Homo sapiens: one gene and its partners. The gene in region 1 interacts genetically with each later gene. Each region holds a gene or a part of one and is shown in the gene's direction. Other genes may lie near its edges. The genes, in order: UBA2, GTF2E1, ACTL6A, CNOT1, SPAG7, PAFAH1B1 and COPE.

Region 1 (3,500 bases):
AATTATGTTGACTAGAAAAATAACGTGAATATATTAAAGTGAAATGTTTCTTGTGTAGAGTAGATGTATTCATAGAAGTCATAAAATCATTTGGAGAAAACATCTCATTGGCCTGATTTGCCCTTGAAAATAGTAAGATTGTCTTTGAATTGAAATAGTTATTACTATTTCAGAGGTCTGAAAGACAGAGCTCTTGATACAAAAATGAGATGTAATTATTCTTAGAAGTTAAAATCATATTTAATAGTACTCTGCAGTTATGTCATCTTTTGAGATTTGATATTATGAACTAATTTTACTTAATTTTAATTGTAATCAGTATTTTCTATGGCTAAAAGTGTTTTATCTCATGAAGCTTGTATGTTCCTGTGGTGTTGAAGATTAGTCATGGGTCTTAAGGCATAAAGGCCAATTTTAGAAACCTAAGAAAAATTTGTGTGTACATATTTTGAAACTTTGGTTGAATCAGACATCTAAATACACTAAAATGAAGCTAGTATATTTAGATTCTTGGGATTCTTATAAACATTAGTCTCTTGGGTTTTGTGATATTTAAAGGGTAACTTTTCATATTTTCATTGTTATTGTTATGCTAGTGATTTGGGAAGTTTGATTAGTGCACAGAGGCTAAATAAAGAGCCCTTGGAATGGGAATTGTTATCCTCTTGAGTAAAGTCCACATGTAATGGGTGTGATAAGACAGCTGCTTAGGGAAGACACTGTGTTGAGTATTCAGTATTCTTAGTCCTCACCACACCTTATGAGATGGGGATATAATTTCCCCTATTTAATAGATTAAGAGATTTTGACTCAAGGAATTTGACTTGCCTGAGGATTCACAGCCAGCCAATAAATACATAAAGAACTATGCTCTCAGTATTTTTTCTTCTGTTCTGTGATGCCTCTGAATTTTAGACCAGGGTGATATCTTCTCAGTTCAAAGCAGGAAGCCTTGCTGAAATCTAGAGACTAGGATATAGTCTCAGGAAAAATACAAATCGTAACAGGAAAAACTTGGATTGTATTGCCTTATTTGAAGAAACAGCATATGTGAGAGAGTGGTGCATATGAAGAGAGTTTGGCAAAGGGGAGTGAAAAAGAGTCATCCAGGTTTTTCTGAAGTGTTAATGAAACAGCTTTTTTTTTTTTTTTTTTTTAATTGAGACAGGGTCTCACTCTGTCACCAAGGCTGGAGTGCAGTGGCATGATCTTGGCTTACTGCAGCCTCTGCGTCCCGGGTTCAAGTGATCCCGCCACCTCAGGCTCCCGAGTACCTGGGACGACTTTAGGTGTGCGCCACCATGCCTGGCTAATTTTTTGTGTTTTTGGTGGAGATGGGGTTTTGCCACGTTGCCCGGGCTGGTCACAAACTCCTGAGCTCAGGCAATCTGCTTGCCTCAACCTACTAAATTGCTTGAGACTACAGGCATGAGCCACCATGCCCAGCCTAAAACAGTTTTCTTAAATTGCTCGTCTTTTGGCCTGGATTCTGTGTTTGTCCAGCAACCTTCTCTTTACTGATGAATGGAACCAGGAAAGGGTTGCCATTGTCAGTGAGTGGAATTGAGATTCCGGTGTATACAACTGAGTCTCCGGTGCCTTTGTTTAGGCTGGAGTGAGTTCCTAGAAGCTGGTGATTCTTGGTGTTCTTGTCAGACTCATTACTGGACCAGAGGAGCTGATGATGAGACCCCACCCCCTACTTAACCCACCTCCATGCTACTGTGAGGTCCTAGCTGACTGGTCTTTCCCTCAGCAACCTCTTGTTCTAGTCGAAAGTCTATAGTATTATAAACACGTGAAAGTATTGTTCTGAAAGTAATGCTTCAAAATAGTCAATTTGTGGAGAAACTTGTTAAATTGTTTAAATTATTGGCAGGATGACCCATCTGCAATGGATTTTGTCACCTCTGCTGCAAACCTCAGGATGCATATTTTCAGTATGAATATGAAGAGTAGATTTGATATCAAATGTAAGTTATTTGTACTAAAGTTGTATCACTAAAACCTTGAAGTTGTTTTTTAAACAGTGAAACATACTCATCCTTTTTTTTTTTTCCCAGCAATGGCAGGGAACATTATTCCTGCTATTGCTACTACTAATGCAGTAATTGCTGGGTTGATAGTATTGGAAGGATTGAAGATTTTATCAGGAAAAATAGACCAGTGCAGAACAGTGAGTATTTCTGTTTGCATTTTTATGCAACCCCCCTTAAAAAAATCATTAATTAAAAGTACATTAAACAGATAATTTTTAAAATGAAAACAATAAAATTGGTTTAAAGCAATGGAAAAGTAATTTTTCTGGTTACCAAGTGAGTGTGTGTTTAAGCTTCCTGGAAATTGCAACAAAAAGGAAAAATTAAGAAGTTGCTTTTGCTTTTAACATTTCCAATTTTACTGAATTCTTCGAAGAATTCATTGTGCGGTCCTTATACTAAGAAGATGTTTCAACTGTTTTTCAATTCTGAGAGTGCTATATGGGTTTTAAAATTTGCTTGGTCATTTTATAGTCCCCTGTTCAGTCATTCTCCTATTGAGTCATTCTTTTCAATTTTATTGTATAGTTTTTGATAATGTTAATGTCTGAGATCTTTATGGGTGAGTCTGCTGTCATTTCTGCTATTTCTCGTAGTGATTTGCTTGTATGGTTTATGATTTTTTAAAAACTGAATGTGTATTAGAATTGTGTCTGGTAATTCTTTAGGGACCCATTGTAGATGTATTTCTTCAAAGAGCATTTGTGGTTATTATATTTGGGTGCTTGGGGCACTGCCAATACAGGACCACTTTTAAATTAGGATTTTCAATACCTATGTATTCAGACCACAAACCTGCACGTGCCCTATGTTATTGTCATGAATTATATGGGAAGATACTCCTCCCCCTCCACTAAGCACCAAGTTTAAGATCATTTTTATGGAGAAAGTATTTTTCTCCTCTCTTTTCAGGTCCTTGCTTTGTGTAAGGGTCTCCTGTTTTAAGAGTTCCTACCTTAGTGGTGGGTGGGGTAGGTGTATCTCTTAAGGCTAACACTACTTGGATGTTCTCTTTGGATTCCTTCCTTCGATGTTGTGTCTGCAGACACTTCGCTTTCTTACCAGCTCAAGAAGGCTTCCTAGGAAATACTAGCCAATACTTTGACTGTTGTTTAGGTTCTCCTTTTTATCATTGAAATAAAAAGACCTGTTTACCTTCAGAAATTTCAAAAAATATCTAGTTTGCAATGGTACTGTTATTTTGCAGTGTCATTGATGCACACTTACTTTTTTTTATCTTTTGAGACGGAGTCTAGCTCTGTTGCCCAGGCTGGAGTGCAGTGGCACAATCTTGGCTCACTGCAACCTCCACCTCCCAGGATCAAGCGATTCTCCTGTCTCAGCCTCCTCAGTAGCTAGGATTACAGGTGCATGCCACCATGCCGGCTAATTTTTGTATTTTTAGTAGAGACGGGTTTCACTATGTTGGTTAGGCTGGTCTCGAACTCCTGACCTCATGAT
Region 2 (3,500 bases), on another chromosome or scaffold:
TTTCCTTCTCCTGCCTGATTGCCCTGGCCAGAACTTCCAACACTATGTTGAATAGGAGTGGTAAGAGAGGGCATCCCTGTCTTGTGCCAGTTTTCAAAGGGAATGCTTCCAGGTTTTGCCCATTCAGTATGATATTGGCTGTGGGTTTGTCATAGATAGCTCTTATTATTTTGAGATACGTCCCATCAATACCTAACTTATTGAGAGTTTTTAGCATGAAGAGTTGTTGAATTTTGTCAAAGGCCTTTTCTGCATCTATTGAGATAATCATGTGGTTTTTGTCTTTGGTTCTGTTTATATGCTGGATTACATTTATTGATTTGCGTATATTGAACCAGCCTTGCATCCCAGGGATGAAGCCCACTTGATCATGGTGGATAATAAGCTTTTTGATGTGCTGCTGGATTCGGTTTGCCAGTATTTTATTGAGGATTTTTGCATCAATGTTCATCAAGGATATTGGTCTAAAATTCTCCTTTTTGGTTGTGTCTCTGCCCGAAGCCCAGGTTTTTAAAGTAAACTATATGCCAATGTGGGCTTTGAGAAGACAGCTTTCTGGGTCATGGTACGGAAATGAGATACACTTAGTTTCTGCTTTGTCAAGGGATCCAGTATTTAAGAATATTTTGGGCTGCTCTCCCTCCCTCATTTTCTACCTTTTTAAGGACTGGATGGTCTTTCCTTGATTATCAGATTCAATTTTTCAAGGTTGGTAAAACTGTCTGGATCTAAGTATTACTTTCTTTCAGTTTTACAACAGTTAATGATTTTGTCAAACACCCCAGGTGGTGATTACTCATGTGTTTATTGGTTTGTTGTGATTTTATTGTGAAAGCATGACTATGTAAAACATCCTAGAATCTTGGTAGAAAAATTTTACTCAAGAAAGGAAACAAAGACACTTTTAGGAAATGCGAACTGCTAGTTTTCTCAGGGTTTCCAGCATTCCCAAAGAATAGTGAGCATTTCATGTAGCTTTTTTTGTGTTTCTCTTCTGAAGTAAAGTAGACTTGACGTAATATATTGTTTTATAAATAAAAAGTTACTTTTTAATCAAACACACTATAGATCATAAAAGTAGCCATTTAAGAAATATGTAAAGCTTTTTGGGTGTAATCTTTTGTGCATTCTAGAGGAAAATCTTGTTCTGCTCTGTTAAATGCTTAGGTATTAGAAATCTTTTTAAACACTTTGGGTACTTTTCTGGCACTGCAAGGATAGTGGATATGATTACCATGTTCTTATACCTGGCTAATTTTCTGTTTTTTTTTGAATTCAGTATATTTAAAGTTGGAGTTCGTTGCTAAAGATGGCAGACCCAGATGTCCTCACTGAAGTTCCAGCAGCATTGAAGCGGTTAGCCAAGTATGTGATCCGGGGATTTTATGGCATTGAGCATGCCTTGGCCTTGGACATCTTGATCAGGAACTCCTGTGTGAAAGAGGAGGATATGCTGGAGCTGCTCAAGTTTGATCGGAAGCAACTTCGATCAGTTTTGAATAATTTAAAGGGAGACAAGTTTATCAAATGCAGAATGAGGGTAGAGACTGCTGCAGACGGGAAAACCACTCGCCATAACTACTACTTCATCAATTATCGTACTCTTGTTAATGTGGTAAAATATAAACTGGACCACATGAGAAGAAGAATTGAGACCGATGAGAGAGATTCGACCAACCGGGCTTCCTTCAAATGTCCTGTCTGTAGTAGTACTTTCACAGACTTAGAAGCTAATCAGCTCTTTGATCCTATGACAGGTGAGGTTTATCCAGTTTGTGAATCTTTAAAATAAAGTGTGTATTACCTTTTTTCTTAAATTGATTCATCTAATTTTTAAACCATCATATATATTATTATAAAAGTGAATGGATCAGTGTAAATCACAGCATACAGTCAGTCTTACTGTCCTGTTTGGCTGTCGCACTACTTTGAGAAGCCTTTGCAAAGCGTTTCTCCTTTACAAGGGAGTTTCTCACTTATGGCCCTCCTGCCTCTGCCCACCCCACCTTGTTTACAACTGCAGCCTAATCTGAAGGGTTGATTTCTCTACCACTTTGAGGCTGTTCTAATTTTATTTTTGACCTCTAGACAGTTGCAATACAGTGTATTTAAATGCTTTGTTAGTGGAAGTAGAAAGTGGTATCAGGAGTATATAACTAGGGCATATAATCTGGATTTGGGGAAGGCCTCTGGAAGAAGTTAACATTTGAGACCTAAAAGATAGTAAGAGTTAGCTAGATGAAATAAGAGGGGAATTCTTTCCAAGATAAGACATTTAGTGTCCTTTAGATACACATTATTGTTGGAAGAAAATTGTCAACAAGATATATAATTGGCCTGATTTGATTGAATAGTTTTAAGGATTTTTCATAACACAATTTAGAAAGCATGCATTATCTGAAAATACAATATGTCTAGCATAAACATGAGAAACTTTAAAGTTCTGAGTTATATAGTTATTTTATCTTGTTATCTGTTTACACAATAAAAAAGAGACTAGTTTTGCTAAATACTCGATCAATTTTGTCTTATTTTCTACAGGTAAAAATCTATAGAAGGACTCAGTGCTATTAAATTAGATTAAGTCCCTTTGTTATGGTTGAATTCAGGAGTATAGGCTACTTTTTAGTTCATAGATCTGCTTTTTTAAAAACTTCGTCTGAAAGTTTAAACTTTGACCCATGAAATATTTGGTTGTGCAAAATTACAGATTTCTGTGTATGTTTTATTTTCTAATTTTTATGTTATATATGGTACATTTTAAATAATTAAAAAAAATTTTTAAGTGGGAAATAACCCCAATATAAATTAAGATTATTGACAAAAAGAGCCAGAAGCAATCTGTGACCTTTTTTTCTTATTTACTGTGAGGCAATGATTTTGGATGAAAACTGATTTAAGGAATTCACAATTGTATTAAACATTTAATTTGTCTGAGCCGAGCTTTTTACCTTGAAAGGGCTCCACAAGGAGAGATCTTGATTATAAGAAAGTCTTAACCATCCTCGGTATGAGAATTGCTTGAGTGTTCTATAGAGGAAGGTTGTAGAATATATCTGGAGCTCTTCAAAATAGACTAGAAAAGTCTCATGATTCTTGCCATTCACTCTAACAGATTTCTTACAGGAGCTCTGGGTTCTTGGTTTTGTAATTCTCTACAGATGTTGGTTTTAACAGTGGAGGCTTCATCACTCTTGACCACAGTAGAAGGTGTTATCCAGTCCCTTAGAGTAATCTAAAATAACATGCTTCTACTACATTTATTTGTCATTTGAGTCATATTAATTTAATTAAACTTTCTAAAAGGAGATGATTCCACTACTTATATATCAGTATTTGGGAGACTGATCATGATACTCTTGAATTTCACCTGGATTCTGAATGAAACTAGTTGACTCAATAGATGGCCTGTGGAAGAGATGGCCTAACATTCCATCCAGTACAGTCAAGGTGACTTGAATCAAGGAGTTAGGGTAGAGGGCATGAAAGTATTTTATGAA
Region 3 (3,500 bases), on another chromosome or scaffold:
TTTTTTAAGTATGTTAAAAATCTTTAGTATATAATGTATATTTAAAACTGATGCATGGCTTTATTTATGTGTTGAAGGATAGTTCAGTTCATTCTACCTGAAAAAGTTATTCACATAAATACACCCACAGAGGAAATTCGTTCAAGGAAGTTTGGACTTACTGCCCTCTTAGCCTTGTTTCATCTGTTTCATAGGCATTGTGAAATCCCCTCTTGCTGGAGACTTTATTACTATGCAGTGCAGAGAACTCTTCCAAGAAATGAATATTGAATTGGTTCCTCCATATATGATTGCATCAAAAGTAAGTAATTATTGAATTTTCTTTGTAGAACTTACTTCTAGCTCCCCCACCCCTATGAAGTGAACTCCATTAACCTAGCATCTCTTGGTACTCTCAGGAAGCTGTTCGTGAAGGATCTCCAGCAAACTGGAAAAGAAAAGAGAAGTTGCCTCAGGTTACGAGGTCTTGGCACAATTATATGTGTAATGTAAGTAACCCTCATTCTCTTTACAAAAATGTTACAGGCTTTTTGCATGAGTATTAAAAAAAGTTATATATAGGCTGTAAATCCTTGAGTAAAATATGGGCACTTTATATTTTCAAGCTCTTTATTTTTTTTATTACTAAATACATTTTGAAGATTAAATAGAACATGATCTCAGGGTCACACTCTATATTTTTAATGATATTTTACTAACAAAAGAGCTTTTCTGTGAGAGGCATGCTTTTCATACTTGCCAAACAAATCTCTACAAATTACTACATACTCACTTGGATTACTATGGTGAGACCTGGAAGGAATTTTGGTTTTATGCTATTCTGAACATTTTTGGCTGAGAAAATGGTTTTAGGTTTTGTAGAGGCCTACTAGTATGTCTCAGTTATGTTCTGTTTCCCAGCATCAGTCAGCAATATCAAAAATGTGTTTTTGTTCAGAACAAGGAACCCATGAGAGATTCTCTTTACTAAAAACCCATCTCTGAACATATGGCTTACTGATGGGGAAGAGGTTAGTAAAACAACCTGATGCCACAGATACGCCTTAATTTCTTAAAAAAAAAACAAAAAAAAACTGTTACTTTAGGTTCAGGGGTACATGTGCAGGTTTGTTAAATGGGTAAACTCATGTCACGGAAGTTTGTTGTACAGATTATTGTCCCCCAGGTACTAAGCCTAGTACCCAATAGTTATTTTTTCTGCTCCATTCCCTCGTCCCTCAGGGAGGTCCAACTGTCTGTTGTTCCCTTCTTTGTGTCCATGTGTTCTCATCATCTAGCTCTCACTTGTAAGTGAGAACGTGCTGTATTTGGTTTTCTGTTCCTGCATTAGTTTGCTGAGGATAATGGCCTCCAGCTCCATCCCTGTTCCTTCAAAGGACATGATCTCATTCTTTTTTTTTTTTTTTCACTACATAATATTCTGTGGTCTGTATGTACCACATTTTCTTAATCCAGTCTTCCACCGACGGGCATTTAAGTTGATTCCATGTCTTTGCTATTGTGAATAGTGGTGCAGTGTACATACACATACATGTGTCTTTATGATAAACTGATTTATATTCCTTTGGGTATATACCCAGTAATGAGATTGCCAGGTCAAGTGGTAGTTCTGGGCCAGGCATGGTGGCTCACGCCTGTAATTTGAGAGGCTGAGGTGGGTGGATCCCTTGAGCTCAGGAGTTAGAGACCAGCCTGGGAAACATGGCAAAACCCTGTCTCTACAAAAACAGAAAAATTAGCTAAGTGGGGCCGGGTGCAGTGGCTCACGCCTGTAATCCCAGCACTTGGGGAGGCCGAGGCGGGTGGATCACCTGAGGTCAGGAGTTGGAGACCAGCCTGGCCAACATGGTGAAGCCCTGTCTCTAAAAATATAAAAAAATTAGCTGGGTGTGGTGGTGGGTGCCTGTAATCCCAGCTACTTGGGAGGCTGAGGCAGGAGAATTGCTTGAACCCAGGAGATGGATGTTGCAGTGAGCCAACACGGTGCCACTGCGCTCCTGCCTGGGCGACAGAGTGAGACTCCATTTCAAAGAAAAAGAAAAATTAGCTAAGTGTGGGGGTGTGCACCTTTAGTCCCAGCTACTTGGGAGACTGAGGTGGGAGAATCACCTGAGCCCTGTGAGGTCGAGGCTGCAGTGAGCTGTGATTGTACCAGTGCCTTCTAGCCTGGGTAACGAGTGAGAACCCATCTCAAAAAAGAAAAAAAAACAAATGGTAGTTCTGTTTTTAGCTCTTTGAGGAATTGCCACATGGCTTTCAACAATGGTTGAACTAATTTACATTCTCACCAAAAGTGAATAAACGTTCGCTTTTCTCTGCAGCCGTGTCAGCAGCATCTGTTATTTATTTAATTTTTTCAAGACAGAGTCTTGCTTTGTCACCCAGGCTGGAGCGCAGTGGTGCAGTCTCGGCTCACTGCAACCTCCATCTCCTGGGTTCAAGCAATTCTCCTACCTCAGCCTCCTGAGTAGCTGGGACTACAGGTGTGTGCCACCACACCTGGCTAATTTTTGTATTCTTAGTTGGCCAGGCTGGTCTCTAACCCTTGACCTTGTGATCCACCCGCCTCAGCCTCCCAAAGTGCTGGGATTACAGGCGTGAGCCACTGTGCCCGGCCCTATTTTTTCACTTTTTAATAATAAATAATAGCCATTCTGACTGGTGTGAGATGGTGTATCATTGGGGTTTTGATTTTCATTTATCTGATGGTCAGTGATATTGAGCTTTTTTTCATATGCTGTTGGCCGCATGTATGTTTTCTTTTGAAGTGTCTATTAGTGTCCTTTGCCCACTTTTTAATGAGGCTTTTTGTTGTTGTTGTTCCTTATAGAAGCTAGGTATTAGACCTTTGTTAGATACATAGTTTGCAAATATTTTCTCCTATTCTGTAGGTTGTTTGCTTACTCTGTTGATAGAAATTAATGTGTATCCAGCAAAAGAAACTAAGAGTAAAATTATATGAGTCATAATTTACTATGAGAGGGATCATATCTAACAGGTTTTTTAAAAATTATTTTATTTATATCATATACACACACACACACACACACACACACACACACACATTTTAAAGACAGGGTTGGCTGGGCACGGTGGCTCATGCCTGTAATGCCAGCACTTTGGGAGGCCAAGGCAGTGGATCACTTGAGGCAAGGAGTTCAAGACTATCCTGGCCAACATGGTGAGACCCCATCTCTACTAAAAATACAAAAATTAGCTGGGTTTGGTGCTGAGCACCTGTAATCCCAGCTACTTGGGAGGCTGAGGCAGGAGAATTGCTTGAACATGGGAGATGGAGGTTGCATTGAGCCAAGATTGTGCCACTGCATTCCAGCCTGGACGACAAGAGCAAGACTCTGTCTCAAAAAATAAATAAAGACAGGGTCTCTCTCTGTCACCCAGGCTGGAGTGCAGTGGTGCAGTTGTAGTTCACTGCAGTCTCAAACACCTGGGCTCCCCCTGCCTCAGCCTCCTCAGTAGGGAGGACTACAGGTGCATGC
Region 4 (3,500 bases), on another chromosome or scaffold:
AATGGAAATATTTGATAAATCATCTGTGATAATGTTAATTAAAGCCTAAAACTTTTTAAGAAATGTTACTAAAGTATACTTCATTCTTTTGAGGGGGGTGGGGGGCTTAAGTTACAATAGGAAAATGTTACTCCATTTTCCTTAGTGTGGAAATATTTTTCTTGTTTTTTAAAAATAGGGCACTTTAAGAGTGCTGCTGGTTCTTTTGCATGATTTCCCAGAGTTCCTTTGTGATTACCATTATGGGTTCTGTGATGTGATCCCACCTAATTGTATCCAGTTAAGAAATTTGATCCTGAGTGCCTTTCCAAGAAACATGAGGCTCCCCGACCCATTCACTCCTAATCTAAAGGTAAGGTTCCAACTAGTTAAAGGAAAACTTATGTCTTAATATTTCAGTCCTTTCTCTGATAAGTAGACTGTTCAGCACTTTCCTACCCAACATAACACGCACACTATTAGTTAAGGGTACTCTTTAAAGGAAATAATGTTATTAAGCCTGATAGAAGGTATGATATTGTTGCTATTGCTGTTGCTGGTGAATATTGGTTCACAGCATTTTTCTAGTTGCTAGTTTTCATATTAATTTTGATATTAAATTTAGCTCTATTTACAGAACCACAGCTTAGGTGTTGGGGCAGTCATTTGCTGGGTGTGCCCCACATGGCAAAGAATTGCAGAACAAACAGACCTTTGTAATCTTTTTCTTTTTTTGAGGCAGAGTCTTACTCTGTGACCCAGGCTGGAGTGCAGTGGTGCAGTCTCGGCTTACTGCAACCTCCCCTTCGCTGGTTCAAGCTATTCTCCCGCCTCAGCCTCCCAAGTAGCTGGGATTACAGGCACTCGCCACCACACCTGGCTAATTATGTGTTTAGTGGAGATGGGGTTTCGCCATGTCAGCCAGGTTGGTTTTGAGCTCCTCACCTCAAGTAATCTGCCTGCTTCGGCCTCCCAAAGTGCTGGGATTACAGGTGTGAGCCACCACGCCCTGCCATAGTCTCCATATTTCACAGTTTTGTGTCTGTGCACTTGTGCAGTTGTTCCTTGGTCCCTTGCTATTCTTGGAGGATTGGTTCTAGGACCCACTGGGACACCAAATTTTAAGTATGCTTAAGTCCTGTATGTAAAGTGGCATATAACCTTTGCATATCCCCTTAAATGACATCTGTAGTGCTTATGATACCTAATGTAGTGTAATGCTATTATGGAAATAACTATTTTAAACTATATTAATAACTTTTTAAAATTTGTGTTTTTTATTGTTGTATTATTATTTATTTGTATTTATTTATTTATTTTTGAGACAGAGTCTCACTCTGTCACCCAGGCTGGAGTGCAGTGGCGCAATCTCAGCTCACTGCAACTTCCGCCTCCTGGGGTCCAGTGATTCTCCTGCCTCAGCCTCCCAAGTAGCTGGTACTACAGGTGCCCGCCACCATGCCTGGCTAATTTTTTTTTTTGTATTTTTAGTAGTGACGGGGTTTCACTAGTTGGCCAGGCTGGTCTCAAACTCCTGACCTCACGATCTGCCTGCCTTGGCCTCCCAAAATGCTGGGATTACAGGCATGAGCCACTGCACCCGGCCTTTATTGTTGTATTATTTTTTATTGACCCCATCATCTACCTCTACCTTCACCCCCCATATTTTCGATTTGAGGTTAATTAGATATGGAACCTAAGGGTATGGAGAACCCACTGTATTTTTTTGTAAGTTGTTGGAATAAAGGAGAGAGAGGACCACTTAAAATCTCACCACCCTGACATGGCTACTATAGTTTGTTTAAGAGACAGGGGTCTCGTTGTTTTGCCCAGGCTGAAGGGCAGTGACTATTCACAGGTGTGAACATAGTGCACTTCAGCCTCAGGCTCCTGTGCTCAAGCCGTCCTCCTGCCTCAGCCTCCAGAGTAGCTGTGACTAGAGGTGCACACCACTAGAAGTGCCCAGCTATAGTTTAGATGTAGTCTCTACTCTTTCTGACACATGCATTTTTTTTTTTTTTTTTTTTTTTGAGACGGAGTTTCGTTCTTGTTGCCCAGGCTGGAGCGCAATGGCGCGAGCTGTGGCTCACTGCAACCTCTGCCTCCTGGGTTCAGGCGATTCTCCTGCCTCAGACTCCCGAGCAGCTGGGATTACAGGCACCACACCCAGCTAATTTTATATTTTTAGTAGAGATGGGGTTTCTCCATGTTGGTCAGGGTGGTCTTGAACTCCCAACCTCAGGTGATCCGCCTACCTCGGCCTCCCAAAGTGCTGGGTTTACAGGCGTGAGCCACTGCGCCCGGCTTCAATTTTTTTTTTTTTTTTTTTTTTTTTTAAGGAGTAAGTGTGATGTCTGGTCTTGCTGGGGCTTCTTTTCAAAGACTCTTGGTGAGTGAGGAATCTTATTCCGGATTATTATTTTGAAACCGAAGTCCAAGAAAAATCAGTTAGTTGTGCAAATTAGACCTTTGCCCAAAAGGTATCTTGCCTCTGGGAAGGAAATACATTATAGAGTGGGAAATTTTTATCATTTTGAACCAAGATTCTTCTAAAGAAAGAAAGACTGATTAATAAAATGTGGCAGCTGTGCTCTTCAAGGCATTTATAGTGTATATAGTTTTAGAAAAACAGTCCCACCACTTAAGCATAGATGTAATTTACTAATAAAAATGATTCTGCTTGTGATTCTTGCATTTTATCTGTGGCAGGTGGACATGTTGAGTGAAATTAACATTGCTCCCCGGATTCTCACCAATTTCACTGGAGTAATGCCACCTCAGTTCAAAAAGGATTTGGATTCCTATCTTAAAACTCGATCACCAGTCACTTTCCTGTCTGATCTGCGCAGCAACCTACAGGTTAATTGGTTTGGCTTAAAACTCATCTACGTCTTCCATATAAAGCACTTTCTATGTATGGTCCTGTGTGTGGTCCATTTGGGAGTTAGTCTTTTATTGTCATTTCCATCAATTGGGTGAGGTTGATTAACTGGATTTACGTATTTTACTAGTTCATTTAATCAGTGATATTTTGCTACAGCTTTGGACAAGACAGCACTAGAAGAGTAGACCACAGACAGTCATTAGCTGTTGGTACTCCTAGGATTTTTCTGAATACCTGGATGCTGATTTACATTTCTCTATAGGATATTTTGGAAAGTTATATATTTACAGTCTGTATATGCCATGCAACTACAACTTTCTCTCCAAATCTTTAATTGGCACAGTGCATATTTTGATTTTATAAACTTTACTTTAGAGCTGTGCCTTGAGCTTCGGCTTCCTGAGGGAAATCACATTTCTCTTATTGATACAACCACCTTTGGAGCATCTGTGTGTTTGTTAAATAACCTCACAAATTCAAGCAAGTGAATCACAATAAATGTTTGGCCTTTCCATGAAGGTGTAAGAAGGGTTTAGAAATACTGGTGCTAGAATTGGTCCTCTGCAGGAGTAAGCATAAGGAGTTCTGTTTTGCTCATTTTAAGGTATCCAATGAACCTGGGAATCGCTACAACCTC
Region 5 (3,046 bases), on another chromosome or scaffold:
TTTTTTTGAGATGGAGTCTTGCTGTGTCGCCCAGGCTGGAGTGCAGTGGCGCCATCTCTGCTCACTGCAAGCTCCGCCTCCCAGGTTCACGCCATTCTCCTGCCTCAGCCTCCCGAGTAGTGGGGACTACAGGCGCCCACCACCACACCCAGCTAATTTTTTGTATATTTTTTTTTTTTTAGTAGAGACAGGGTTTCACCGTGTTAGTCAGGATGGTCTCGATCTTCTGACCTCATGATCCATCCACCTTGGCCTCCCAAAGTGCTGGGATTACAGGTGTGAGCCACTGCACCCGGCCATCTCTTTTTTTTTTTTGAGACGGAGTTCACTCTTGTTGCCCAGGCTGGAGTGCAATGGCGCGATCTCAGCTCACTGCAATCTCTGCCTCCCAGGTTCAAGCGATTCTCCTGCCTCAGCCTCCCCAGTAGCTGGAATTATAGGCGCCCACCACCACACCCGGCTAATTTTTGTATTTTTAGTAGAGATGGGGTTTCACCATGTTGACCAGGCTGGTCTCGAACTCCTGACCCCAGGAGATCTGTCTGCCTCGGCCTCCCAAAGTGCTGGGATATAGGCGTGAGCCACCATGCCTGGTCTATTATTCTTAATCTCTTACTGTGCCTAATTTATAAATTAAACTTTATCATAGGCATGTATGTATAGAAAAAGACATAGTATGTATAGGGGTCAGTACTATCCACAATTTCAGGCATCCACTGAGGGTCTTGGAATGAACCCCTGTGGATAAGGGGGACTATTAGATAGAATAAACATCAATAAATGCTTGATGAATAAACGCTAATCCTACCTTCCCAGCCTGACACCTCCCAGTGGACACCACACTTCACTTGAAGCCTTAGAAACCTTTCCCACCCATGCTTCCAGCCCTGGCTTCATGTTGCCATTTCTCACCCCCAGAACAGGCCGCCCGCCTGAAGAAACTACAAGAGCAAGAGAAACAACAGAAAGTGGAGTTTCGTAAAAGGGTGAGAACAACTGGAGTGATCAAAGGCAGACTCAGGAAGGACTTCCAATAAGTTAAAATTGGAAGGTTGAGGACTCAGTTTTGCTGAAAATGTCTTGAGAGAGGTGACGCATGGAAGCCAGTGGCTTGGAGGCTGGGGAGGGTGCTGGGGAGGCGTAGAAGGGCCCAGGCTCAGCTAGGGAGAGGGGTACTTGGGTGGAGCCATTGTCTCATATCTGCTTCCTTTCCCCTCTCCCAAGATGGAGAAGGAGGTGTCAGATTTCATTCAAGACAGTGGGCAGATCAAGAAAAAGTTTCAGCCAATGAACAAGATCGAGAGGAGCATACTGTGAGTGTCCCTGGGCTGGGGGAGGAAGGAAATGGGTGGCTAGCGGGGCATGAAAGGGCCAGCGGGGGGCTCCTCCAGAGGAGGGCACTAGGCCCGCTCCTGGCTCAAGATGCTCTTTCCCCTCTGCCATCCCATCCCAGACATGATGTGGTGGAAGTGGCTGGCCTGACATCCTTCTCCTTTGGGGAAGATGATGACTGTCGCTATGTCATGATCTTCAAAAAGGTAAAGGGCCTGAATTCCTCATTCTCTCCTCTCCCCTTTGTAGCCTTATCCCCCCTCCCCGACCAAGGAATGAAATGAAACATTTGTATGGACTCTGACCCCATCATTCTGCTCTTCTTCAGGAGTTTGCACCCTCAGATGAAGAGCTAGACTCTTACCGTCGTGGAGAGGAATGGGACCCCCAGAAGGCTGAGGAGAAGCGGAAGCTGAAGGTGAGCTATGCTTTGCAGCCCTTGGGGTCCAGAAGCCCACCACCTGGGAGGGGTGGGGGTTTGGGCTGGGGCCCTGAGCACCAGTGCCCCCACTTTCACCCCTAGGAGCTGGCCCAGAGGCAAGAGGAGGAGGCAGCCCAGCAGGGGCCTGTGGTGGTGAGCCCTGCCAGCGACTACAAGGACAAGTACAGCCACCTCATCGGCAAGGGAGCAGCCAAAGACGCAGCCCACATGCTACAGGCCAATAAGACCTACGGCTGTGGTGAGGCCACAGTGCGGCTGGGGGTGGCTGGGAGAGGAGCATAGGATGCGGCAGGAGGGCAGTGGAGGCTGAGGTACGGATTTCTAGGCCCGCCCTACCCTCCTCTCTGCCCCTAGTGCCCGTGGCCAATAAGAGGGACACACGCTCCATTGAAGAGGCTATGAATGAGATCAGAGCCAAGAAGCGTCTGCGGCAGAGTGGGGAAGAGTTGCCGCCAACCTCCTAGGCGCCCCGCCCAGCTCCCTTTGACCCCTGGGGCAGGGCAGGGGGCAGGGAGAGACAAGGCTGCTGCTATTAGAGCCCATCCTGGAGCCCCACCTCTGAACCACCTCCTACCAGCTGTCCCTCAGGCTGGGGGAAAACAGGTGTTTGATTTGTCACCGTTGGAGCTTGGATATGTGCGTGGCATGTGTGTGTGTGTGTGAGAGTGTGAATGCACAGGTGGGTATTTAATCTGTATTATTCCCCGTTCTTGGAATTTTCTTCCCCATGGGGCTGGGGTACTTTACATTCAATAAATACTGTTTAACCCAATGTCCTGGTTTGTTTATACACAGAAAGGTGGGTCCTGGAACCACTGGTAGAGAAGAAGGGGAATAATTTTCAGTTGAACAGCATAAAATTGCTGTTTGTGTAGGTTAAAGATGGCCAGTTGGAACTATCAGAGGTTTTTTGTTTGTTTGTTTGTTTTGAGACAGAGTCTTTCTCTGTTGCCCAGACTGGAGTGCAGTGGTGTGATCTCGGCTCACTGCAACCTCTGCCTCCAGGGTTCAAGCGATTCTCCTGCCTTAGCCTCCTGAGTAGCTGGGACTACAGGCATGTGTCACCACACCCGGGTAATTTTTTGTACATTTAGTAGAGATGGGGTTTCACCATATTGGCCAGGCTGGTCTCTAACTCCTAACCTCAGGTGATCCGCCCGCCTCAGCCTCCCAAAGTGCTGGGATTGCAAGAGTGAGCCACTGTGCCCGGCCCAGAGGGTTTTGTAAGATGCTGTATTTTAAGAGTGCAATCGGGCTGGGCATAGTGGCTCA
Region 6 (3,500 bases), on another chromosome or scaffold:
ATTTTTACTAAAGAACTCCTGGCCTCAAGTGATCCACCCGAGTTGGCCTCCCAAAGTGCTGGGATTACAGGTGTGAGCCACCACACCCAGCCCAATCCATTTTTAATCTAAGGTAAAGATAGAAGAGTTTGTTTTATGGGTTGGGCACTGTGGTTCATGCCTGTAATCCCAGGACTTTGGGAGGCCAAGGCGGGCAGAAGGTGATCAGGAGTTCCAGACCAGCCTGGCCAATGTGGTGAAACCCTGTCTCTACTAAAAATACAAAAATTAGCCAGGTGTGGTGGTGGGTGCCTGTAATCCCAGCTACTTGGGAGGCTGAGACAGGAGAATTGCTTGAACCCGGGAGGCGGAGGTTGCAGTGAGCCGAGATCGTGCCATTGCGCTCCAGCCTGGGCAACAAGAGTGAAACTATCTCAAAAAAAAAAAAAAAAAACCAAAAAAAGAAAGAATATGTTCTATGATATACTAGTGTTTTATCTATTTCTTTTCATATTTTTATTTTATAAAAAATATGCTAACTACAAAAGAAAGAAGATGGAGATAAATGAGTCAGATGTTTTGATTATTTAGTATTTTGGTTAAGTTTTTCTTTTTGAGACGGACTCTCGCTGTGTTGCCCAGACTGTAGTACAGTGGCGCGATCTCGGCTCACTGCAACCTCCGCCTCCTGGGTTCAAGCGATTCTCCTGCTTTAGCCTCCCTAGTAATAGCTGGAATTACAGGCATGTGCCACCACACCTGGCTAATTTTTTATTTTTAGTAGAGATGGGGTTTCGCCATATTGGCCAGGCTGATCTCGAACTCCTGACCTCAGGTGATCTACCCACTTCAGTGTCTGAAAGTGCTAGGATTATAGGCATGAGCTATCATGCCTGGCCTTGGTTAACTTTTTATGGGTGAGGAAAGGCTATACATTTAGCATTGTCAGAGAAAATGAAATAAGCTGTTGACTAAACTCATACATGAATATTTATTTATTATTTATTTATTTATTTTTCAAGACTGAGTCTCGTTCTTGTCGCCCAGGCTGGAGTGCAGTGTTGCGATCTTGGCTCACTGCAGCCTCCGCCTTTTGGGTTCAAGTGATTTTCCTGCCTCAGCCTTCTGAATAGCTGGGATTACAGGCATCTGTTACCCTGCCCAGTGAAGTTTTTTGTATTTTTAATAGAGATGGGGGGTCTCTGTTGGCCAGGCTGGTCTCGAACTCCTGACCTCGTGATCTGCCCACCTTGGCCTCCCAAAGTGCTAGGAGTACAGGCATGAGCCACCGTGCCCAGCCACACCTGGCTAATTTTTGTTTTTTGAGATGGAGTCTCCCAATCTTGTTGCCCAGGCTGGAGTGCAATGGCATGATCTTGGCTTACTTCAACCTCTGCCTCCTGGATTCAAGCAATTCTCCTGCCTCAGCCTCCCGAGTAGCTGAGATTACAGGTGCCTGCCGGCATACCTGGCTCATATTTCTATTTTTAGGAGAGATGGAGTATCACCATGTTGGTCAGGCAGGCCTTGAACTCCTGACCTCAGGTGATCCTCCTGCCTCGGCCCCGCAAAGTGCTGGGATTACAGGCATGCACCACGGCGCCCGGCCTAATTTTTCTATTTTCTGTAAGAGGTGAGGTCTTGCCATGTTGCCCAGGCCAGTCTCAAACTCCTAGCCTAAGCAAACTGCCTCAAGCCATCTGCTCACCTTTACCTCCCAATGTGCTGGGATTACAGGCATGAGCCACTGCTCTCAGCCTAAGAAAAAATATTTTTAAAGTTGACAAATGTAGAAATGAGCTAAGATTTGTCAAAGGGATCAATAAGTAATGAAATATTCTGGTTATCAAAGTTTATCATATATGAATGAACAGTGAAAAAATTGGAAATAACAGAATTAACAAATTTTAATTTGTCTTTAATGGTTCAGCAGTCACTTAAAAATTTTTACAGTATTACCATGATGCTATAGTCTTTATCATCACAAATCCCAACGTAAAGATAAAAAAAAACCCCACTTAATAAAATCATTATTCAAGCTTTCTGGCTCTTCGACTTGGGCTAAATAAGTGTTCTGTATAATGGTATGTCCTTAAAGAGAAATTATCTCCACCTACTGAAAAAAAAAACAAAACAGCGAGGGCCTATCAATTTGAGAGTTTAAACAGGCCTGTGGTTCGCATTTTTATGGAAGCATCATAATACAACCCCAAGACATCAAATGTCACTAGCACAGAAGACATCTAGGATCCAAAGTTCTTAGAAGAATATTACTTTTAAAAACATTAGAAATAATACTTTACGTGGGACTCAACCTTGACTCTTCTTTCTTCCTCTATATCCAATCAATTACCTTGTCTTGCCAATTTTACCTCCTCGATATTTGTTGAGTTAGTCCCCTTCTATCCATACTTACCATTACTACTACTACCATCATAGTTCACATAATCTCTTACCCAACTAATTTCACATCGTCTCTCTAAATTCAGTCTTGTCCGGTTAACGTCTTTCTGCTACATAGTCCCCAGTCATCTATCTAAAATGCAATCTGACCATATCACACTTCCCTACTTAAAAAGAACCCTCCCTTGGCTCCCTTTGTATTTATTTAACAAATATTTACATAGCACTTACTAATACGCCAGGCTCTGTTTTAAGTGCTTTACAAGTATTCGTTTACTCCTCACAACATTCTGGGAGAATTTAGCTAGCCCTTTGTGACAGCTTTGTAAGTAGCAGAGCTGAAAGTTGAACCTCAGGTACTGAGGCTCCACAGTTGGGGCTTTCAGCCACCGTACTGTGCTGACTCCCTCTTTCCTATAGTCCACATACTTTAACACAGTTTGCTAGGTCTTCAGTCACTTCAAGTTTCATTTCTAATCAAGCCCCACCTTGCTCACACTCTAATATATATATGCTTTCTCCCTCCCCACTTTGTGATCTTTGTGATTCTACTCCTGCTGTCCTCTCTGTCTAGAGCAACTTGTAGTATCTCAGAACAGAGTGCAGTGAATACATTTTGACAAAAGAATGATTTTTTTTTTTGAGACAGGGTCTGGCTCTGTTGCCCAGGCTGGAGTGCAGTGGCTAACTACAACTCTGCAAATCCTGGGCTCAAGCAGTCTTCTTGCCTCAGCCTCCTGAGTAGCTGGGTCTACAGGCCCGCGCCACCATGCCTGGGTAATTTTTGTATTTTTCAAAATACAGGCCAGGCGCGGTGGCTCACGCCTGTAATCCCAGCACTTGGGGAGGCCGAGGCAGGTGGATCACCTGAGGTCAGGAGTTCGAGACCAGCCTGGCTAACATGGTGAAACCCCGTCTCTACTAAAAATAAAAAAATTAGCTGAGCGTGGTGGTAGATGCCTGTAATCCCAGCTACTTGGGAGGCTGAGGCAGGAGAATTGCTTGAACCCAGGAGGCAGAAGTTGCAGTGAGTTGAGATTGCACCACTGTACTCCAGCCTGGGCAAAAAGAGCAAAACTTTTGTCTCAAGGAAAAAAAAAAGTATGTATATATGTATA
Region 7 (3,500 bases), about 16 Mb from region 1:
GGCTGCTTCTCCAGATGGGCGGTGAGTGGGCCGGGGCCTGAAACCCCATCCTGGGTACCTCCCCCAGAGCTCCTGGGCCTGAGGAAGCTGAGCGGTGAAATGTGGGAGTGAGGGTGTCCTCCTCTGCTGGGCGGGGCTGGTGGTCCTAAGCACAGGACTTAGGAACATCCCAGACACACACAGTGAGCCCTGGGTGTGGAGCGGCCATGCAATGTGTCTGTGGCGACCCGCTGACCGCCCCCTCGCCCTGTCCTGCAGCACAGCCATGACAGTGCAGATCCTGCTGAAGCTGGACCGCCTGGACCTCGCCCGGTGAGCCCTCCTGCCCCTCTCCACCCGCACTGAGCCACAGCCCAGAGCGTCACAGCCCAGAGCGTCACAGCCCAGAGCGTCTGTGGTGCTGTCATTACTCTTGTTGTCTTTCCTTTCCATGGGGGTGGCTTGCTGTCGTTCAGCCCTTCCCTGCAGTATGTTGCCAGGGAGGAGGGCCATGGCTCTCTGTGCCTCAGTTTCTCTCTATGCAGTGGGTGGCAGGCCTCTCCCACAGGGTGAGGGTGGGCTTCATGGAGGGAGAGTGGAGGTTGTGCCTGGAGCAACATGTTACTTGACCAGCTTGTAACTGTGCCGTGGGGCTGGCGGGGCCTGCACGTGGCATCACCAGGTCGGAGGCCATGGCTGGGGGTCCAGGACTCCCCTGCTGCCGTTTCCAAAGCCCTTGCCTCAGAGTTGTTCACACTGTAGTTCCGTTGCCCTTCCCTGCGTTCCATCCTCCATGGAGTGAGTCTCTCCTGAGCTCTACCTTGTGGTGGCCACCCTGGGGGGCCATAGCTGGCCCCAGTCCCACCTTCCCAGGGCCTGCACGTGGTCAGACGGGCAGGGTGGCTCGGGCACTTAGTCGTGGGGTATGAGCATGCAGTGGAGCACAAAGCAGGGGCCATCCCCAGGCTCCGGTGGGCCCCAAGTGGGGACAAGGCAGGGATGGCCAGGCCAGGGCCCTCGGCCACTCAGCCCCTCTGTCATCTGTCCCCGCCCCAGGAAGGAGCTGAAGAGAATGCAGGACCTGGACGAGGATGCCACCCTCACCCAGCTCGCCACTGCCTGGGTCAGCCTGGCCACGGTGAGCCCTAGGCCATGAGGTGGGTGGGCATTGCGGGCACCTGGCTGAGCAGGGTCTGTGGGCACCCCCACCTGTGCGTAGGCTGCTGGCCACTCCAGTGGGGCTCCAGGATCAGGCCGTGGCCCCTGCCAGCCTGGCATAACTCAGCCTTGACTCCATTCCGGGCTTCTCACAGCCAAGCGACTTGGCCAGAGCCAGAGCGAAGAGATGGTGGGGGCGGGGACGGGTTCCTGAGCCTGAGGCACAGGGGTACTCGAGGGTCTGGGTTGGCCTGGCAGGCCCTCCTCCCCTCAGGGCTTCCTGGGGTTTTCTGCGACTCAGCTTTGCTCTCCAGGGTCCTGGTCGCCAGCCAGGGACGGAGTTCAGTGTTCCCATAGCAGCGGTGGAGATGTCCTCAGCTCCCAGGCCTGGGCACCTCCGCCCGGCAACAGCCCCTCTCCTGGTTTCTGGGACTTGGCCCCCTTCTGAGCCACTCTTTTGTGTGGGCCTATTAAAATGTGCTTCCTGGCTGGTCGCAGTGGCTCACGCCTGTAATCCCAGCACTTCGGGAGGCCGAGGCGGGTGGATCATGTGAGGTTGGGAGTTCTAGACCAGCCTGACCAACATGGAGAAACCCCATCTTTACCAAAAATACAAAATTAGCTGGGCTTGGTGCCATGCACCTGTAAACCCAGCTACTCAGGAGGCTGAGGCAGGAGAATCGCTTGAACCCGGGAGGTGGAGGTTGCGGTGAGCCAAGATCGCGCCAGTGCACTCCTGCCTGAGCAACAAGAGTGAAACTCTGAGAAAGAAAAAAAAATGTGCTCCCCGTCCCTGCCCGCCACGGGGCTGAAGCCTCACCCAGACAGACTTCCAGTGACCGTCTAGTATGGTAGGACAGGCCCCGGCAGACCTATCGGGTAGTTTGGGCTGTTTTCACTGCCTGCCTTGGCCTCAGGCTCCCCCTGCAAGTGTTCTGCTGTTCTGAGCAAGTGGACAGGTCAGGGCTGCTGGTCACAGAGCTGACTCCTCCTCCTCTGACGTGCTCAGTGACCCAGTGGTCCCCACTCAGACCCTGAGCCAGCCACCTGTGCACTGAGGCCTTGGAAGCCCCAGATTCCACCTCTGTGTACTCAGCACTCCGGGAGCTGGGTGGGAGGTGGGGCAGGAGGCGGCCACGAGTCTTTAGGCCCCATCAGCAGAGTACAAGTTACGGGTAGTCCCCATGGCGGAGTGGCTGTGCCTTGAACCGGGCACACCAGATTCGTCTCTGTGCAGTGCTGGAGTCCCCCCCGCTAGGGGAGGGGGCTGGCGGGGGAAGGGCCGGGCAGCAGGGGCACAGGCAATGATGCGGGACCCTCCCTGCAGGGTGGTGAGAAGCTGCAGGATGCCTACTACATCTTCCAGGAGATGGCTGACAAGTGCTCGCCCACCCTGCTGCTGCTCAATGGGCAGGCGGCCTGCCACATGGCCCAGGGCCGCTGGGAGGCCGCTGAGGGCCTGCTGCAGGAGGCGCTAGACAAGGTAGGCACAAGCCTGTCCCAGAGTGGGGACGGAGGGAAGGCCAGGCGGCCAGAGGGTGGGGTCAGGGCGGACAGAAACAAGTGTAGCAGAGACCCCCTGGGTGTGCGTGTGGCCCCACAGGGCTTCTAAGGCCCAGTCAGCAGCGAGATCCACAAAGCAGGGATCTCACCTGCAAAGAAATCCAGATTCCGGCCTCACAGAAATGGGGCATCTGGGCAGCCTGGGCCTCAGTGGTCTGAGCCGTCCTTGTTGTCACCTCAGCTGCCTGGCCCGGGACCTGCAAGTGGGACCCCTCACCTGAGTACATACTCAGTATTGGAGAGACACTCCCCGTACTTATGTAGGGGAGAGTGTGCTGTGGACAGGAGCTCTTCGTTGAGAGAGCGCTGCCTGCCCAGGGTGGCTGCAGTCATCTCCTGCCTGATGTCTGCAGTCTTTTCTTCCTTCCTTCCTTCCTTCCTTCCTTCCTTCCTTCCTTCCTTCCTTCCTTCCTTCTTTCCCTTCCTTCCTTCCTTCCTTTCCTTCCTTTCCTTCCTTTCCTTCCTTTCCTTTCCTTCCTTTCCTTCCTTTCCTTCCTTTCCTTTCTTCTTTTTTTTTTTTTTTGAGATGGAGTCTCACTCTGTCACCCAGGCTGCAGTGCAGTGGTGTGATCTCAGCTCAATGCAACCTCCGCCTCCTGGGTTCAAGTGATTCTTTTGCCTCAGCCTCCCAAGTAGCTGGGATTACAGGCGGCTGCCACCACGCCTGGCTAATTTTTGTATTTTTAGTAGAGACGGGGTTTTGCCATGTTGGTCAGGCTGGTCTCAAACTCCTGACCTCAGGTGATCCACCCGCCTCAGCCTCCCAAAGTGCTGGGATTATAGGCGTGAGCCACCACGCC

What was found.
Region 2: changes in UBA2 (region 1) and GTF2E1 together harm fitness less than expected from each alone (positive genetic interaction), as found in Homo sapiens cells (one large-scale study listed by BioGRID).
Region 3: changes in UBA2 (region 1) and ACTL6A together harm fitness less than expected from each alone (positive genetic interaction), as found in Homo sapiens cells (one large-scale study listed by BioGRID).
Region 4: changes in UBA2 (region 1) and CNOT1 together harm fitness less than expected from each alone (positive genetic interaction), as found in Homo sapiens cells (one large-scale study listed by BioGRID).
Region 5: changes in UBA2 (region 1) and SPAG7 together harm fitness less than expected from each alone (positive genetic interaction), as found in Homo sapiens cells (one large-scale study listed by BioGRID).
Region 6: changes in UBA2 (region 1) and PAFAH1B1 together harm fitness less than expected from each alone (positive genetic interaction), as found in Homo sapiens cells (one large-scale study listed by BioGRID).
Region 7: changes in UBA2 (region 1) and COPE together harm fitness more than expected from each alone (negative genetic interaction), as found in Homo sapiens cells (one large-scale study listed by BioGRID).

Annotation. Positions count from the first base shown.
Region 1 is NC_000019.10:34,452,381-34,455,880, forward strand, and holds part of UBA2 (SUMO-activating enzyme subunit 2), read left to right. Parts: intron 1-1,879; coding exon 1,880-1,973; intron 1,974-2,063; coding exon 2,064-2,176; intron 2,177-3,500. UniProt on the Homo sapiens protein: The heterodimer acts as an E1 ligase for SUMO1, SUMO2, SUMO3, and probably SUMO4. It mediates ATP-dependent activation of SUMO proteins followed by formation of a thioester bond between a SUMO protein and a conserved active site cysteine residue on UBA2/SAE2.
Region 2 is NC_000003.12:120,749,244-120,752,743, forward strand, and holds part of GTF2E1 (general transcription factor IIE subunit 1), read left to right. Parts: intron 1-1,279; 5' UTR 1,280-1,309; coding exon 1,310-1,757; intron 1,758-3,500.
Region 3 is NC_000003.12:179,576,426-179,579,925, forward strand, and holds part of ACTL6A (actin-like protein 6A), read left to right. Parts: intron 1-194; coding exon 195-301; intron 302-336; exon of another isoform or gene 337-398; coding exon 399-488; intron 489-3,500.
Region 4 is NC_000016.10:58,525,327-58,528,826, reverse strand, and holds part of CNOT1 (CCR4-NOT transcription complex subunit 1), read left to right. Parts: intron 1-178; coding exon 179-352; intron 353-721; exon of another isoform or gene 722-904; intron 905-2,688; coding exon 2,689-2,838; intron 2,839-3,467; coding exon 3,468-3,500.
Region 5 is NC_000017.11:4,958,726-4,961,771, reverse strand, and holds the end of SPAG7 (sperm-associated antigen 7), read left to right. Parts: intron 1-918; coding exon 919-986; intron 987-1,224; coding exon 1,225-1,313; intron 1,314-1,453; coding exon 1,454-1,538; intron 1,539-1,660; coding exon 1,661-1,750; intron 1,751-1,855; coding exon 1,856-2,012; intron 2,013-2,128; coding exon 2,129-2,238; 3' UTR 2,239-2,546; downstream 2,547-3,046.
Region 6 is NC_000017.11:2,600,154-2,603,653, forward strand, and holds part of PAFAH1B1 (platelet-activating factor acetylhydrolase IB subunit beta), read left to right. Parts: intron 1-3,500. UniProt on the Homo sapiens protein: Regulatory subunit (beta subunit) of the cytosolic type I platelet-activating factor (PAF) acetylhydrolase (PAF-AH (I)), an enzyme that catalyzes the hydrolyze of the acetyl group at the sn-2 position of PAF and its analogs and participates in PAF inactivation.
Region 7 is NC_000019.10:18,902,388-18,905,887, reverse strand, and holds part of COPE (coatomer subunit epsilon), read left to right. Parts: coding exon of another isoform or gene 1-21; intron 22-258; coding exon 259-312; intron 313-1,035; coding exon 1,036-1,117; intron 1,118-2,464; coding exon 2,465-2,620; intron 2,621-3,500. UniProt on the Homo sapiens protein: The coatomer is a cytosolic protein complex that binds to dilysine motifs and reversibly associates with Golgi non-clathrin-coated vesicles, which further mediate biosynthetic protein transport from the ER, via the Golgi up to the trans Golgi network.